Linked DNA regions of Homo sapiens: region 2 is linked to region 1. The links come from fine-mapping of genetic effects on gene expression. Tissue or cell type: cartilage. Region 1 holds a variant in brackets; the other region holds the start of a gene. All regions are shown on one strand. Distances are from middle to middle.

What was found. PIP is the estimated chance that this variant, and not a neighbour inherited with it, causes the effect.
Region 2: it holds the start of TIMM10, and the variant in region 1 is fine-mapped to the expression of TIMM10 in cartilage (Steinberg 2020, PIP 0.95).

Annotation. Positions count from the first base shown.
Region 1 is chr11:57,488,929-57,497,031 of GRCh38, reverse strand. SLC43A1 (solute carrier family 43 member 1) reads left to right here. Exons shown (of 15, transcript NM_003627.6): 7 at 868-1,001; 8 at 2,861-3,039; 9 at 5,170-5,316; 10 at 5,406-5,441; 11 at 5,670-5,808; 12 at 7,640-7,781; 13 at 8,043-8,103. Among named protein-coding and RNA genes, the nearest start is that of SLC43A1, 23 kb to the left of the region's middle. RefSeq lists enhancers at 2,598-3,797, 7,041-7,541. The variant G/TTG (reference allele first, on the strand shown) is at 4,297.
Region 2 is chr11:57,525,919-57,534,016 of GRCh38, reverse strand. It overlaps TIMM10 (translocase of inner mitochondrial membrane 10), which reads left to right and starts at 3,263. Exons shown (of 3, transcript NM_012456.3): 1 at 3,263-3,359; 2 at 3,783-3,898; 3 at 5,099-5,553. The coding sequence starts at 3,828. The coding sequence ends at 5,300. It also overlaps the pseudogene RN7SL605P. RefSeq lists enhancers at 3,084-3,263, 7,718-8,098.

The sequences.
Region 1 (8,103 bases):
GGGCAGTTCTCCCTTCTTTTCAACTGAAGTAGTGTTTGAAGAGCCAGATCTTACCTCCACACATTTGGGGGTGTGGCCCTTTGAAGCTCTGTCCTGCCCCTAGGGAGGAAAAGGCACCAAGGTCCAAGACTGCAGAGAAAAAGGTTTGAGCAGGAGCCTGAGGGGAGAGCAGACATTAATTATCCTGGTCAGATGGTATGGGGAGGACAAGAGGACAGATGGTGCATCAGCTTCTTCCATAAGAAGGGCTGACACATTTGCACAGAATCTCATTCAATTGAGAACTTACCTGCCCTGGGGTTGAGAGCCCTTGGGCAGAGCACTTGCACCTCCCTCTCCCCAACCCCCCCAGTTGTTGCACGTGGGAGGACCTGGGAAAGGTGAGAAAAGGCTGAGCATGAGCAGTCTGGGTTTGCCTTTTCCCCTGGGGAATGTGCCAGGAAGGGGCAGGATAAACACGATTAGGCCCGGTAAACCTAGAGCACTAAGTTTCCTTTGTACGTACTATGAAATGGACATTTTTGTGCGAACATGAACATGAATGTTTGTGGAGTCATAGGCAAAAATGTATGTATTTTTTTAAGATAATGGAAATTTCAGAGATATTTTGAGCCAGTGGCCAGCAACTTCAGGCTTTGTGGAGACTATTTCATAGCTCTCTAGGGGGCCTCAAGTGAAAAAGAAAAAGGAATGATGGGTCTTCTGAGTCTGACTCTAAACTTCTGGTCTTGGTTTCCTCATCTGCAAATTGGGCACAAGGACAAGGGGAGAAGAGAACTTCTTTAAGGCCTCTGAGGCCTGGGATCTACCTTGGTGGGGTCTGGGGCCAGGCAGTCTCCCCCACGGGCCTGCCCCCTCCTCTCACAGCTGATCTACGATGCCGGTGTGGCCTTCGTGGTCATCATGTTCACCTGGTCTGGCCTGGCCTGCCTTATCTTTCTGAACTGCACCCTCAACTGGCCCATCGAAGCCTTTCCTGCCCCTGAGGAAGTCAATTACACGTGAGTGGCTGGAGTGGGCAGAGACTCTCCCTGGGGCAGAGAGGGCTGTGGTGATATGATAGACGGAATTAACTTTGGATTCAGAGAGACCTCGGCTTGGACCTCTGCTTGGCAAATCGCTTGAGCCCTCCAAGCTCTGCTTTCTCATCTGTACTATGAGCCTGTTCCTACCTACCCACAGGTCGCTTTTGTTTGTTTGTTTGTTTAGAGGCAGTGTCTTGCTCTGTCACTCAGGCTGGAGTGTAGTGTCTTGGTCCTGGCTCACTGCAACCTAAAACTGCTGGGCTCAAGCGAACCTCTCCCTCTGCCTCCCGAGGAGCTGGGGTTACAGGCACACACCACCATGCCCAGTTAATTTTTTTATTTTTTGTAGAGACAGGGCTTACTGTGTTACCTAGGCTGGTTTTGAACTCCTGGCCTTAAGGGATCCTCCCCCCTTGCCCTTCCAAAGTGTCCGATTACAGGCGTGAGCCACTGTGCCCAGCCTCCCATGGGTGTTTTTAAGTAATACAGTTGGCACATAACAGGTGGTCAAAACATGGTAAATATTTATTTATTTATTTATTTATTTTTGAGACAGAGTCTCATTCTGTCGCCCAGGCTGGAGTGCAGTGGCATGATTTCAGTGAACTGCAACCTCTGCCTCCTGAATAGCTGGGATTACAGGCACGCGCCACCACACCCAGCTAATTTTTGTATTTTTTAGTGGAGACGGGGTTTCACCATGTTGGCCAGGCTGGTCTTGAACTCCTGGCCTCAAGTGATCCGCCTGGCTCAGCCTCCCAAAGTGCTGGGATTGCAGGCGTGAGCCACCATGCTCAGCTCATGGTAACTATTTATGTGGGTGCAAAAGTAATTGTGGTTTTTGCCATTAAAAGTAATGGGCCAGGCGCAGTGGGTCATGCCTATAATCCCAGCACTTTGGGAGGCCGAAGAGGGTGGATCGCCTGAGGTCGGGAGTTCTAGACCAGCCTGACCAACATGGAGAAACACCGTCTCTACTAAAAATACAAAATTAGCTGGGTGTGGTGGTGCATGCCTGTAATCCCAGCTAGTCAGGAGGCTGAGGCAGGAGAATCACTTGAACCCTAGAGGCTGAGGTTGCGGTGAGCCGAGATCGTGCCATTGCACTCCAGCCTGGGCAACAAGATCAAAAACTCCGTCTCAAAAAAAAAAAAAAAGTAATGACAAATACTGTTTTCATCCTTTCTGGGTTTGGAGGAGATCTGAGTAGGAGGCACCTCAGCAATGGCACTCGATGCCATGTGGTCCCAAAAAGAGGGACATAAAAGAATCAAGCACCCCATCTTTTGTGGAGCCACCTGAATGCCAACTTTTTCCAGCCCCCTGTCAGTTCAGCAGAGGCAAGAGGTGATACTCCACACCAAGCACATAAGGTGACATTACAGAACTGACAGTTATGCCAGGCACTGTACTTAGCCCCTATACCATCCTCAAACAGCTGTATGATGTAGATTGGGTATTAACCCCATTAATAACAAAAGTACAGGGAACAAAGTGACTTTCCAAAGGTCATGCCATTCAAAGGAGGGTGAATCTTAGGTTGGACGCAGGCTGTCTGACTCTGGAGTCTGAGGTGTTAATGCTGCCTCCTCCATGGGAACAGCCCAAGTGAAAAACAGCTGATCCACTCTTCATTTACTTGGCATCTGTGCTAAGCTGGTCCCTGAGCCAAGCTCTGAGCAACAGAAACAGAAGCTCTGCATTAGGAGCTTGTGAGCATGTCAATGCCGGGTAAAGGAGTGCTGGAAACCGCTGGGATGGCCGCCGAGCACTAGGCCGTTGAAGGTGGGCTCTGTGTGACTGGTTCCTCTACACTCTGGCCTGGCTGCCTGCAGGAAGAAGATCAAGCTGAGTGGGCTGGCCCTGGACCACAAGGTGACAGGTGACCTCTTCTACACCCATGTGACCACCATGGGCCAGAGGCTCAGCCAGAAGGCCCCCAGCCTGGAGGACGGTTCGGATGCCTTCATGTCACCCCAGGATGTTCGGGGCACCTCAGAAAACCTTCCTGAGAGTGAGTGTCTGGTCAAGGTGCCGGCCTTGGGGGATAGTGATGGTGGGTCCTCATATTCAGTGAGCACTCATGGTTGAGTATTTATTCGCACCCCTCTTCAGTCCTTACAACACCCCATGATGTAGGTGGGGCATGCTCCTCATTTACAGATGGGCACATCAAAGCTCAGCTAACGCTGGGAAGTTCAGATTCAGGGTTACCCTGCTGGATTCCTGGGATTGGGGAGGGAGGAGCTTCCAAAATGGGGACAAGGTCTCTGGGCCTGTCGGGTAGCTGGTTTCCTCAGGGCCCCTTGCAACCTCTGAGCTTATTGCATCAGGTGCAGCCAGGCCCGTGAGCCTCCTGGCAGGGGTCCTCCACACCTGGCTGTCTTTTGCCCCCTGCTGGTCACAGGAGGAGCTGCAGCACCTGCCTGGGCTGCTTCTCAGGAGGGTACATGAAGATCCCAGGACCGCCAGCTCCATGATAAGTGGAAGGAGCTCCTTGGAGTCAGGAGCGGGAGTTGAGGAGTTTGAGTCCTGCTCTCCAGTTATAGGCTATGTGACTTGTGTAGATCACCTAACCTTGCTCTTGATTTCCTTACCTCTTAAACTAGCACTAAAAGCACCCCACAAACTGTAAAGTTAGTTGTGATGATTGAATGACACCATGGGTGTGGAAGCTCTTTGTAAAGTGCAAAACGGTGTGCAGTTTGAGGGTGGTTACCCCCAGTGCCGATTCTCAGAGGGCAACATGGCTAAGGGCACGAGCTGGAGTTAGGCTGACCTGCTGCTTCCAGCCCTGTGAGCTTGAGCAAGTCATTTAACTTCCTGAGCTGCAGTTTCCTCATCAGTAAAATGTGATAAGGATAGGGTTGTTGTAAGATTTTATTAAATGGGGTAATAAATGTCAAGTATGTAGCCCATAGTGAGTGCTTCAGAGTTTTTTTCTTTTGTTTCTTTCCCCCCCGCCCCGAGATGGAGCCTTACTCTGTTGCCCAGGCTGGAGTGCAGTGGCATGATCTTGGCTCACTGCAACCTCCGCCTCCCGGGTTCAAGCAATTCTCCTGCCTCAGCCTCCCAAATAGCTGGGACTACAGGCGTGCACCACCATGCTCGGCTAATTTTTGTATCTTTAGTAGAGACGGGGTTTCACCATGTTGGCCAGGCTGGTCTCGAACTCCTGACCTCATGATGCTCCTGCCTCAGCCTCCGAAAGTTTTGGGATTACAAGTGTGAGCCACCGTGCCCTGCCAGGTTTTTTTTTTTTTTTTTTTTT[G/TTG]TAAAATAGAGACAGGGTATTGCTGTTGCCTGGGCTGGAGTGCGGTAGTGCAATCATAGTTCACTGCAGCCTTGACCTCCTGGGCTCAAGTGATCCTCCTGCCTCAGCCTCCTGAGTAGCTGGGAATACAGGTGTGCACAACCATGCCTGGCTTATTTTTTTATATATATATATATATATATATATATATATATATATACACAAAATTATATATATTATATTATTATATATTATATTATATATTATATTATTTTTTATATATAAATTATATATATATTTATATTATATTTTATATATATATATATTTTTTAGAGATAGGGTCTTGCTATGTTGACCACCAGGCTGGTCTTGAACTCCTGGGCTCAAGCAATCCTCCTGCCTCAGCCTCCTGAGTAGCTGGGAATACAGGTGTGCACCACCATGCCTGGCTTATTTCATATATATATATTTTTATATATATGTATATTTATATATATAAATATATATATAATTTCTGTATATAAATAAATAAATAAATATATATATATATTTTTAGAGATAGGGTCTTGCTATGTTGACCACCAGGTCTTGAACTCCTGGGCTCAAGTGATCCTCCTACCTCTGCCTTTCAAAGTGTTGGGATTACAGGCGTGAGCCATGGCACCTAACTGAGTTATTTTTACCACACGAAGCATAGGACATACATCCAAAAATGTTCTGAGCTGAGCAAGAGCCTGGAGGCAAGTGAATCTGAACTTTCCCGTCTTTGAAGAAACCAGTCTCTCTCCAAAGTCACATAGTTAGTGTCACTCCCCCCAAGAACTGCATGAGCTGGGACAATCAGAGGGCAGTGGAAGGTCTGGGGCTCAGGGGCGCCCCCTGCTGTCTCCCCAGGGTCTGTCCCCTTACGCAAGAGCCTCTGCTCCCCCACTTTCCTGTGGAGCCTCCTCACCATGGGCATGACCCAGCTGCGGATCATCTTCTACATGGCTGCTGTGAACAAGATGCTGGAGTACCTTGTGACTGGTGGCCAGGAGCATGGTGAGGCACCGCTGAGGCCCCTGGGGGTTGGGGGCACAGGCGGGTCACCCTGGCTGAGCTCCCCTCACCATACGTTTCCCTACCCACAGAGACAAATGAACAGCAACAAAAGGTGGCAGAGACAGGTAGGGCTATGAAAGCAGGGCCCTGGCTCACGCCCACCCCACTGCAACCCGCTTCTCAGGGGGCGGGACTCCTCTAGGCCTGGGCCCACCCAGGTAACCCTTTTGTGGGATGTAAGAGTCTGGGTTCAGAGGAAGGCTATTTTGGTGCTCTCTGGCCTCCGCTGGAAGGGGTGATAGTGTCCACTGAGTGCCAGTTCCTGACCCCACTGCCCTTCCCATCCTGCCCAGTTGGGTTCTACTCCTCCGTCTTCGGGGCCATGCAGCTGTTGTGCCTTCTCACCTGCCCCCTCATTGGCTACATCATGGACTGGCGGATCAAGGACTGCGTGGACGCCCCAACTCAGGGCACTGTCCTCGGAGATGCCAGGTGACCTGCCTGTACAGGGATGGTGACAGCAAGTGGTCAGGCAGTGCTTTTCATTTTCTCTGTGCGTTTACATCCAGCAACTTGTTGCTTTCTCCCAAGAACCCTAGGAGATCAGGGGTACCTCCCCATTTTACAGATGAGGAAACTGAGGCTAGGAAGGGACCTGGCTTGCTTAATAATAAGAATAGCTAATGCAGAGTGCTGACTGTGCACTTGGCACCTTGCCTTGTTTAGTCCTACAACACCTCTTTGAGGTAGATGCGTTAATATCTTCATTTTGCAGTTGAGGAAACCGAGGTACAGGGTTGCACAGTTAGGTCATTCACCCAAGATCACACAGCTTTCAGTGGCAGCCTCCAGAACCTGTGTTATAAGGGTACACGCTAAAGTCTTGTTAGGGCTAGAATAGGTAGAGTTGGTATATTAGATATTTATTGCTGTATAACAAATCACCCCAAGGCTTGGCATTTTAAAACAACAAACACTTCTCATCTCATACAGTTTCTGACAGTCAGAAATCAGGGAGAGACTCAGCCGGCTGATTCTGAGTCACAGTCTCTCATGAAGACATAGTCAGGCTGTCAGCCAGGGCTGCAGTCATCTGAAGGGCTGACTGGGGTTGGAGAATCTATGTCAGTTCAATTACCCCCATGGCCTCTCCATAGGGCTGCTCAGGACACAGCACCTGCTTTCCCTTGAGCAAGAGGGCTAAGCGACAGAGACCCCGTATCTTCTCTCACATAATCTCAGACGTAGCATACCATCACTTCTGTTACGTTCTATTATAGGCACAGAGCAACCCTGATATACTGTGGAAGGAGACTGGACAAAGCAGGGGAATACCAGGAGGCAGGATCCTTGAGGGCTGTCTTGTTGGCTGGAGACCACCATTGAGGGTTTTTTTTTTTTTTTTTATTGAGACAGTCTTGCTCTGTCGCCCAGGCTGGAGTGCAGTGGCACGATCTCAGCTCACTGCAACCTCTGCCTCCCAGGTTCAAGCGATTCTCCTGCCTCAGCCTCCCGAGTAGCTGGGATTCACCATGGAGTCTTGAACCCAGATTCTGTGACTGCTTTTGCTCTTTTTGTGTTCATCCAAACAGTCCCTGTTTATCCTAAGAGGATGGGAGAAAGAGACTGGGAGAGAAGGAAATCCAGTGGCCTCCCTCCCTGCTAGCAGAGCCTGGCCCTGGCACTGAGCCTTCCTCCTCTACCCTCTGCTCCTAATGGTGAGGGTCCCCTAGCAGGGCCCTTCTGTCCAGGACACATGGGCCGCCTGTCCTCACCCCAGCCTACTGACCTCTCTCCTGGGCTGGCCTCAGTGCCCTTGATTGTGCCGGAGAGAGGAAGCGCTGGACAGTCAGGCCAAGCTGCTGTCCCCAGGAGGGCATCTGCTTATGTCTAGGGCAGGGACACCTTCCTGAGGACTTCTGATGAGAGACGGTGTGAGAGCTTCCCACTTCCCACCTTCCTTCCCATCCTTGGTTCTCAAACCTTCAAGTGTGCATGAGAATCACTTAGTGGGGGATATTTGTCCAAATGCAGATTTGCAGATATCCCCGCTGAGATTCTGAGGGCCGAGATGAGGCCTGTGAATCTGCATGTTAAGAAAGCACCCGCTTTGATGCGTGTGTCATTGGGTAGGGGAGCAACACTTTGAGAAACATGGAGCTAGAGAACGTGGGTTTCTATGGGTTTCCCATAGAAACATGGATTTCTGTGTTTTCTGCTGCCCTGACATCGAAGGCACATCTGAAGGGGGAGGGGCCAGGCCAAGAACCAGGGAGTCCTGGGAACGTAGAGGCAGCAGCCAGTGACTTCCCGTACTCCTCAGGGACGGGGTTGCTACCAAATCCATCAGACCACGCTACTGCAAGATCCAAAAGCTCACCAATGCCATCAGTGCCTTCACCCTGACCAACCTGCTGCTTGTGGGTTTTGGCATCACCTGTCTCATCAACAACTTACACCTCCAGGTACCCACCTTCATCCTTCCCCTCTCCCTGCCTCCCGAGGCTCCTCCAAAGGGATGGTCCATCCAGCACCTGCCTTCCAGGAAGCGCAGTTCTGGTCTTCTGATCTGGATCTATTTTCCGGGTTCTCCAGGAAGTGTTTCTAGTAGATTGGGTTGGCGAGGGGGTGGGAATTGAGGCCCAGTTGGCCTCTTCGCCCTACCCCTCCTTCCTCCAGCCTCCACACACTCTCCTAACCTCTTCACTCTCTCTTTTTGGTTTTAGTTTGTGACCTTTGTCCTGCACACCATTGTTCGAGGTTTCTTCCACTCAGCCTGTGGGAGTC
Region 2 (8,098 bases), 37 kb before region 1:
TTGCACTCAAGCCTGGGTGACAAGGCAAGATCCTGCCTCAAAAATCCTAAGTAAAAATAAAAATAAATTTGCCCCAGTGAAAGTTTAAAAATGAAAAAGAATGAAAACAATGATTTATTTTTATTGAGCATCTACCATGGACTAGGTACTTTACTTACACAATCTTTTATATAAATATTTTTCTTTCTTTCTTTATGGCCAGCTCTTACTCATACTTGTATAATCTTATTTGTTTTCTTTTTTGTAGAGATTTTTAAAACTTTTTATTTAGAAATAATTATAGTTTCACAGGAAGTTGCATTAATAGTACAGAGAGGTCCTGTACGCCCTTTACCAACTTCCACTAAAGGTTAAATCTAACATAACTATATTCAATATCAAAGCCAGATAATTTATATTGGTACAATGTGTGTGTGTAGTAGTTCTATGACTTTTTTTTTCTTTCTTTTTTTTTTTTAGACCGAGTCTTGCTCTGTCGCCCAAGCTGGAGTGCAGTGGCACAATCTCGGCTCACTGCAACTTCTGCCTCCCGCCTCCCGGGTTCAAGCGATTCTCCTGTCTCGCCCTCCTGAGTAGCTGGGACTATAGGCGCATGCCACCACACCCGGCTGATTTTTTTTATTTTAGTAGAGACGGGGTTTCACCATGTTAACCAGGATGGTCTCGATCTCCTGACCTCGTGATCCACCCGCCTCGGCCTCCCAAAGTGTTGGGATTACAGGTGTGAGCCACCGCGCCTGGCTTTTTTTTTTTTTTTGAGACGGAGTCTCACTCTGTCGCCTGGGCTGGAGTGCAGTGGCACGATCTCGGCTCACTGCAACCTCCACCTCCCGGGTTCAAACGATTCTCCTGCCTCAGGCTCCTGAGTAGCTGGGGTTACAGGTGCCCGCCACTACCCCCAGCTAATTTTTTGTATTTTTAGTAGAGACGGAGTTTCACCAACAAGGCTGGTCTCGAACTCCTACCTTGTGATTCGCTCGCCTGGGCCTCCCACAGTGCTGGGATTACAGGCGTGAGCCACCGCACCCTGCCAGTTCTATGACATCTTATCACCTGTGTAGATTCTTGTAACCACCACCACAATCAGGATACAGAATTATCCATCAACACAAAGATCTCTCTTGTGCTACCCTTTACAGGTACACTTCTATCTCCCCATCAACCCTAACACTAGACAATCAGAAATCTCTTCTCCATCTCTATAATTTTGTGATTTTGAGAATGTTACTTAAATGAAATCATACAGTATGCAACCTTTCATAAGGCCCAGTAGATATTGCAAGATTCCTCTTGTAAGAAACCATCTCCTTTTCCCACGCAGTTTCTTAACTTTCCATAATGTTTCTTTTTTGCGGGGAGTGGGGGGTCGGAGTTTCACTCTTGTTGCCCAGGCTGGAGTGCAATGGTGCGATCTTGGCTCACTGCAACCTCTGCCTCCCGGGTTCAAGTGTTTCTCCTGCCTTAGCCTCCTGCTTAGCCTCTTGAGTAGCTGGGATTACAAGCACCCGTCACCACACCGGGCTACTTTTTTGTATTTTTAGTAGAGATGGGGTTTCACCAAGTTGGCCAGGCTGGTCTCGAACTCCTGACCTCAGGTGATCCACCCACCTCAGCCTCCCAAAGTGCTGGGATTACAGGCGTGAGCCACTGCACCCGGCCAATGTTGACTATATTTTCAAAGGCAAAAACCAAGGCAAGATATGTCCATCTGTACAAGAGTATCATAGCAGCATTATTGCATAATAGGCAAAAACTGGAAACAATCCAAACATCCACCAACGGGAGAATGGATAGATGAATTGTGGCATACTCATACAATCAAACACTAGACAGCAATAAAACAGAAGGAATAACAGATGCACACAACAATATGGAGGAAATCTTACAGGTACATTGAGCTAAAGAAGTCAGGCACAAAATAGAAAATAATGTATAATTCCATTTACACGAAGTTCAAGAACAAGGAAAACTAATTGATGGTGATAGAGGTCAGAATAGTGGTTAACTTCGAGAGGGGGTATTGATGGGGAAGGAACACAAGATAACTTTTTGGGGTGCAGGAAGTATTTTATATCTTGATCTGGATGGCGGTTATACAAATGTACATATATAGATACATATATATTTAATTAAGCTTAACATTCGTGTATTTTATGCACTTTATGAATGTTATACCCCAATCTTTAAAAATCAGGGCACAAGTTTGGCAAAGATGAGTCTTCAAAGCAGTAGAAAGGTCAATTGTTTAAAATTAGGATGGTCTTGGACAATTAGGGAAGCTTATGATGACCACACAGAAAATGTCTAGCCCACCTTTTCCAATGGGCAATGTGCCCTTGCGTCATTAATTTACATCTTGTAAATTTATTTTACCAGGAAATTGTGTGACAAATCAAGGGACTGAGTATTGTTTCCTTGTTTCCTTCTTTTTAGTGGGGAATGAGTGAATGGTGCAGTTTGAAGAACACATTAAGTCTTGAAAGTTGGAAAGTTCACCAGTACCCTTCTTTCCCTCACCCAAGATTAGCCCTGGTGGCAGCCGAAATTGCTTTTATTATCTCTTTGTGGCTGAGGACCTCTAACTGTTGAAGAAAACATATTTTACACGTCTTGTCTTTCTGCGAACAGGAAGCCTATCTCGCTTATCTTTGCAACCCCAGACGGGGCTTAGTGTGACCTACACACAGCAGTAATCGCACAACGTCCCGTGGAGCACTGCTTCTCAAATTTGGCTGTACATACGAATCACCTGGGGAATTTTAAATTGTATTGCTGCCTGAGGAATTTTAAACTGTACTCCCAGAGATTCTGATTTAATTGAAATGAGGTGAGTCCTGGGCACTGGGATGTTTAAAAACGTTCCAGGTGATTTTAACGCGAAACAAAAACAGAACCGCTGTTTGGGGGCGTTCTTCCTTCTCCACGCCTGATTTGCGCACAGGAGTCGGCTGTCTGGAACGGGGGTGAGGTTCACAGGTGTCTGTCGCCACGCCTCTTCCTACAGAACCAATAAACTGAAGCCGCTCGGTGACATCCCAAAGGACTTGAATTCTGATCGGGCTGCAGACGCTCTGCACCCCGCCCAAGCTTCTATGGTACTTTGGTGTCCTCTCTAGCACTGGCAAGTCGCCTTCCTCTTCGCCCGGCGCCAGCCGCTCCCTCTCTATGATCGCCGAGTTCCCGGCGCCGTCTCGTTGGTATTTAATTCCGGAAGCGAGTTTGAATCAAAGAAGAGGCGGGACTTTCCTCCCGGAAGTAACCCACGTGCTTCCGCTGGAGCCTCTCGGGAGGCGGGTAACGTTATAGTATTTGTCAGAAGTTGGGGTCTCCGTGGGCATTGTGATCCGTCCCAGGCAGTGGTAAGTGACACATGACCTCTGAATTCAATGTGGCCCTGATGATGGCGTCGCCATTTCAGAGGTGTAGCCTTTGGGCTGGGTCCCGGTCGCCTCTGTTCAGCGTATGATCCCATTCCCAGGGCCCTGGAGGTTCAGGTTCGTGGGTTAGAGAGTTCTCCTCCGGTCCTCGATCTCCTGAATAGAGGTGACCTCCAGGAACTGGGGCATCAGAGATCCGGGGCTCGATTTCCAGGCTCGCCATAGACGTCCTGTGCGACCTTGGGCTAGGCCTCAGTTTCCACATCCGTGAAATGGGGTGGTTAAGCTCACTGAGGTTAGTGGCCCGTGGTGGTCTGGCGCCCTGTGAGTCCTCTGTATCCTCTAGCCCCAGGGGTAGGAGAGTGAACGGCGGCGGTGGGTGCTGATGGTGATGTCTGCTCCCAGGATTAGGAGGCCAGAAGGAGATCCCTTCCACGGTGCTAGGCTGAGATGGATCCTCTCAGGGCCCAACAGCTGGCTGCGGAGCTGGAGGTGGAGATGATGGCCGATATGTACAACAGGTAAAGAGAACTATGTGCTACCCTGTCTTGGAAAATAAGTCTTGGTCACCCTTATCGAAGGTGAATGACTTATGACAAATTCCTTCCTGAATGTAGGGGAGCCTGAGGCCCATGCTTACCCTCCCCACACCCACCTTCAAGGTTGATCCTAATGTAGATGCAGTAAAGGGTCACTAGAATGAGTTGGGCATTTAGATGGGGATGGAACTGGCAATGCAGGAGCCAAGCAGGAAGAGAAACTCCAATCCAGGCTCTGGTTAGGTTCCAAGAAAAGCTGAGTATTTGCCTCTTGACAAATAGCACATAGCCAGCCCATTTAGTAGTTAACATTTTAAAACCCTTTATTCTGTGTCAGGCACTTGTTAATCTTCAAAATAATCCAGTGGGTTAATTTTATTAGTCCCGTCTTAAAATGAGGAAATTGATGATTCTAGAGGTTAAGTAACTTCCTTAGGGTCGGCAGCTGGTCAGTAACAATGCCAGAACTAGCACCTCAGTCTGATTCTGCAACTAGTGCTCATAACCATTTGGCAAATTTGGGAACAAATCCTGGCTCCACCAATCACCAGCAGTATAATTGGACATGTTACTTGCACTGTTTGACAATTGGTTTCCTCATTATGAAGAAGACATAATGATACCTACCTCATAGGACATCATAAATATTAAATCTAAAAATATATGAAAGCCCTTAGCCTCAAGCCCAACACTTAGTGAAATGTCTGCTATTTTTATTGGCTTAAGCTCTCTTGATTGGTTGGTTTATCCTGAAGGCTATAAATTAGAAGGATTTTTAAGTGTAGACTGTGAGGTCAGATGACCTGGCTTCATAACCCAGCTCTGTGTGATCCTTAGAAAATTACTGAGCCTCTGTTTGCCTTAATTTCCTCATCTGTAAAATGGGGATACATGTCTCTTAGGGTTATTGTAAGCATTGCATAACAGAATGCAGGTAAAGCACTTAGCAGGATGCCTGGCATGTAGCCAGTCCTCAACAAATGGTTTCTACTTAGTTAGTCATATACATGGACTTAGACAAGTTTCCTACTTGCAAGGACCTTCCAGTGGTTGAGGTGTAAACTGAGGATTTACACTGCTTTCTTGGGGGAGGTGAAATCAATATAGCAGGGCTGGAATGGTCAAGGTTCCTGGGATGTCACAGGATGCTGCTGACATGACCTTGCCCCTCCCTCCCTCCAGAATGACCAGTGCCTGCCACCGGAAGTGTGTGCCTCCTCACTACAAGGAAGCAGAGCTCTCCAAGGGCGAGTCTGTGTGCCTGGACCGATGTGTCTCTAAGTACCTGGACATCCATGAGCGGATGGGCAAAAAGTTGACAGAGTTGTCTATGCAGGATGAAGAGCTGATGAAGAGGGTGCAGCAGAGCTCTGGGCCTGCATGAGGTCCCTGTCAGTATACACCCTGGGGTGTACCCCACCCCTTCCCACTTTAATAAACGTGCTCCCTGTTGGGTGTCATCTGTGAAGACTGCCAGGCCTAGGCTCTCTGTAGAGAGTCTTCAAGATCCCGGAGTGGTAGCGCTGTCTCCTGGTGAAGGAGTATTTGTCACACTGGAATGTGACTGTGTGTGTATGTATGTGTATATATATATATATATATATATATATATATATAAACAAGTTTGTTGACACCTACTATGTGCAAAGCAGTGTGCTTGGCATTTGAGAGTAAAGAAAACAGACACAGCCCCTACCAGCAGAGGGAGATTAATGAGTGTTTAAGAGTAAGACAGGCCGGGCAAGGTGGCTCATGCCTGTAATCTCAGCACTTTGGGAGGCTGAGGTGGGTGGATCACTTGAGGTCAGGAGTTCAAGACCAGCCTGGCCAACATGGCAAAACCCCGTCTCTACTAAAAATACAAAAATTAGCTGGGTGTAGTGGCGGGTGCCTGTAATCCCAGCTACTCAGGAGGCTGAGGCAGGAGAATCGCTTGAACCCAGGAGGCGGAGGTTGCATGAGCTGAGATTGTGCCACTGTCCTCCAGCCTGGGCAACAGAGTGAGACTCCATCTCAAAAAAAAGTAAGACAGCTTAGGTTTGCCTGCTGTCTGCTGCTTTTTGTGTGGCCCTGCACCTGTCACTTTTGTGTGCTTTAGCTTCCGCATCTGTAAAATAGGGTTAGCCCCCTGACTAATCCTGTTTTACAGATGAGCAAGCTGAGGATTTAAGAAGTAAGTTGCTTGCTGGAGCAAGCTTGCTGGAGGTCACACAAGCAGAACAATACCATGGAGGCCAGACCTGACTGCTGCGTTTGCTGTCTCCAGATGGGACTGTGGTTGACACCAGTGCCACTGTGACAGCAGTACCTTCAAAGTGGGCCTTCCTGGTAGAAGTGTCTGGGATGTAACTAGGTCATTGGAGTAAAGGAGACAGAATAGAGGCAGTGAGTTTGGGGCTTGTGAGTGCAGGTTCAAGCCAGACTGCTTAACTTTGAGTTTCTACTGAAATTTTCTAGCAGTGTGATCTTGAGTAAGGCTTTTTAACTGCTCTGTGCCTCAATTACCCCATCATAAAATGGCAGTAAGGTTACCCACCTCATTAGGTAGTTGCAAAAATTAAACGTGTTAATAACCAAAGCACTTAGGAGAGTGCCTAGCATACATTGAGTATCCAATAACATTAGCTTTTTTCATTGCTAAGTTTGGTGGGAGGTGAAGATACCGGATGTACTGGAAAACTTCAAAGCCATTACTAGTCTTTAGGGTAGAAAGAAAGAAAGTTCCTTTCCAGGTACTGAAGTGCAGATTTTGGTCAACAGGTGGCGCCGTCTGCTCATGGTCAGCACTGCTGTGGACAATTCCGCACATTTTATCATTTGCCTATTCTTTGCTGGCCTTGTTCTTGAAAGAGAGGACAGGTGAGGAAAATCGATATTGTGCATACCCTCAGGTTTAGCAAGAAACATCAAGAATTCTCTGTTAGCACATAGCCAGAACATCTAGAAGGGGTGGTAGGAGTGGGGATTAGAGGTTCCAGCTGGAGGCAATGGCACTTGCAAAGGCTTTGTTGAAGTGGCGTAAGTGTGGAGGTGGAGCATTCAGGAAAGGAGAGCTTCAGCTTCAGTGTGGCTGGAGTGCTGGGTGTGAAGAGAGGTGAAGATGAGGCTTGGAGGCTGGGCAGATTTTGCTCCAAAAGAGCTTGGTGAACTGTGATAAGGAGTTTGGATTTTCTCCTACTAAGGACAACAGCAAACTATTGAAGAGTTTAAATCGTTCAGTGACAATGACACGTTTGCGTTTTGGTGGCTCACTCGAGCTGCCAGCCAGGTAGACAGTGGCAGAAGATGGAAGATAAAGCACTAAAGGGTGATGAGGCAGGAAGCCAGTGAGGAGAGAAAGGGGACGATGTGAGTGACAGTAAATCATTTGTTGGGTTGCTATTGTGTGCTAAGCTCTGTGCTAAATTCTTCACGTGTATTATTTCAGCTAATCCATCTAACAACTCTGTAAGGCAGGTACAATCGTTCCCAGCTGAAGAAGCTGAGGCTCTCAAAAGCTAGTAACTTGCCTAAGTTCATGCAGCATGCAAGTTGTCCAGCCAGGATTCTAACTTAGACACCAGAGGCCACTTTTAACCACTGCTCTAGGACTGGGGGAAATGGTCCCTAGTGAGATATGTGTCGAGTTTCATATTTCATTCAACAATATTGTTGGCCTGCTACATGTGAAGAGCTGTGGAAAGCGCCCAAAGTGAGTTAGATCCCTATGAGCAAGTGGGATGGGGGTGGAGTGGACAGTAGGAGGGCTGGAACACACATAAAAGGGTATAAGAAATAACAATTAGGCCGGCCAGGGGTGGTGGCTCACGCTTTTAATCCCAGCACTTTGGGAGGCCGAGGAGGGTGGATCACTTGAGGCCAGGAGTTTGAGACCAGCCCGGCCAACATGGTAAAACCCCATCTCTACTAAAAATGCAAAAATTAGCTGGGCTGGTGGTGCACGCCTGTAATCCCAGCTACTTGGGAGGCTGAGGCACGAGAATCACTTGAACCCAGGAGGCAGAGGTTACAGTGAACTGAGATTGCACCACTCTACTCCAGCCTGGGAGACAGAGTGTGACCCTGTCTCAAAAAAAGAAAACAAAACAAGTAGGTACTTTCTGCCATAGGGAGGATTCATAAACTGCTAGTCCTCAGGTGCATTTTTGCTTATCAGTTTTAAAAATCAGAGAATGTCTCAAA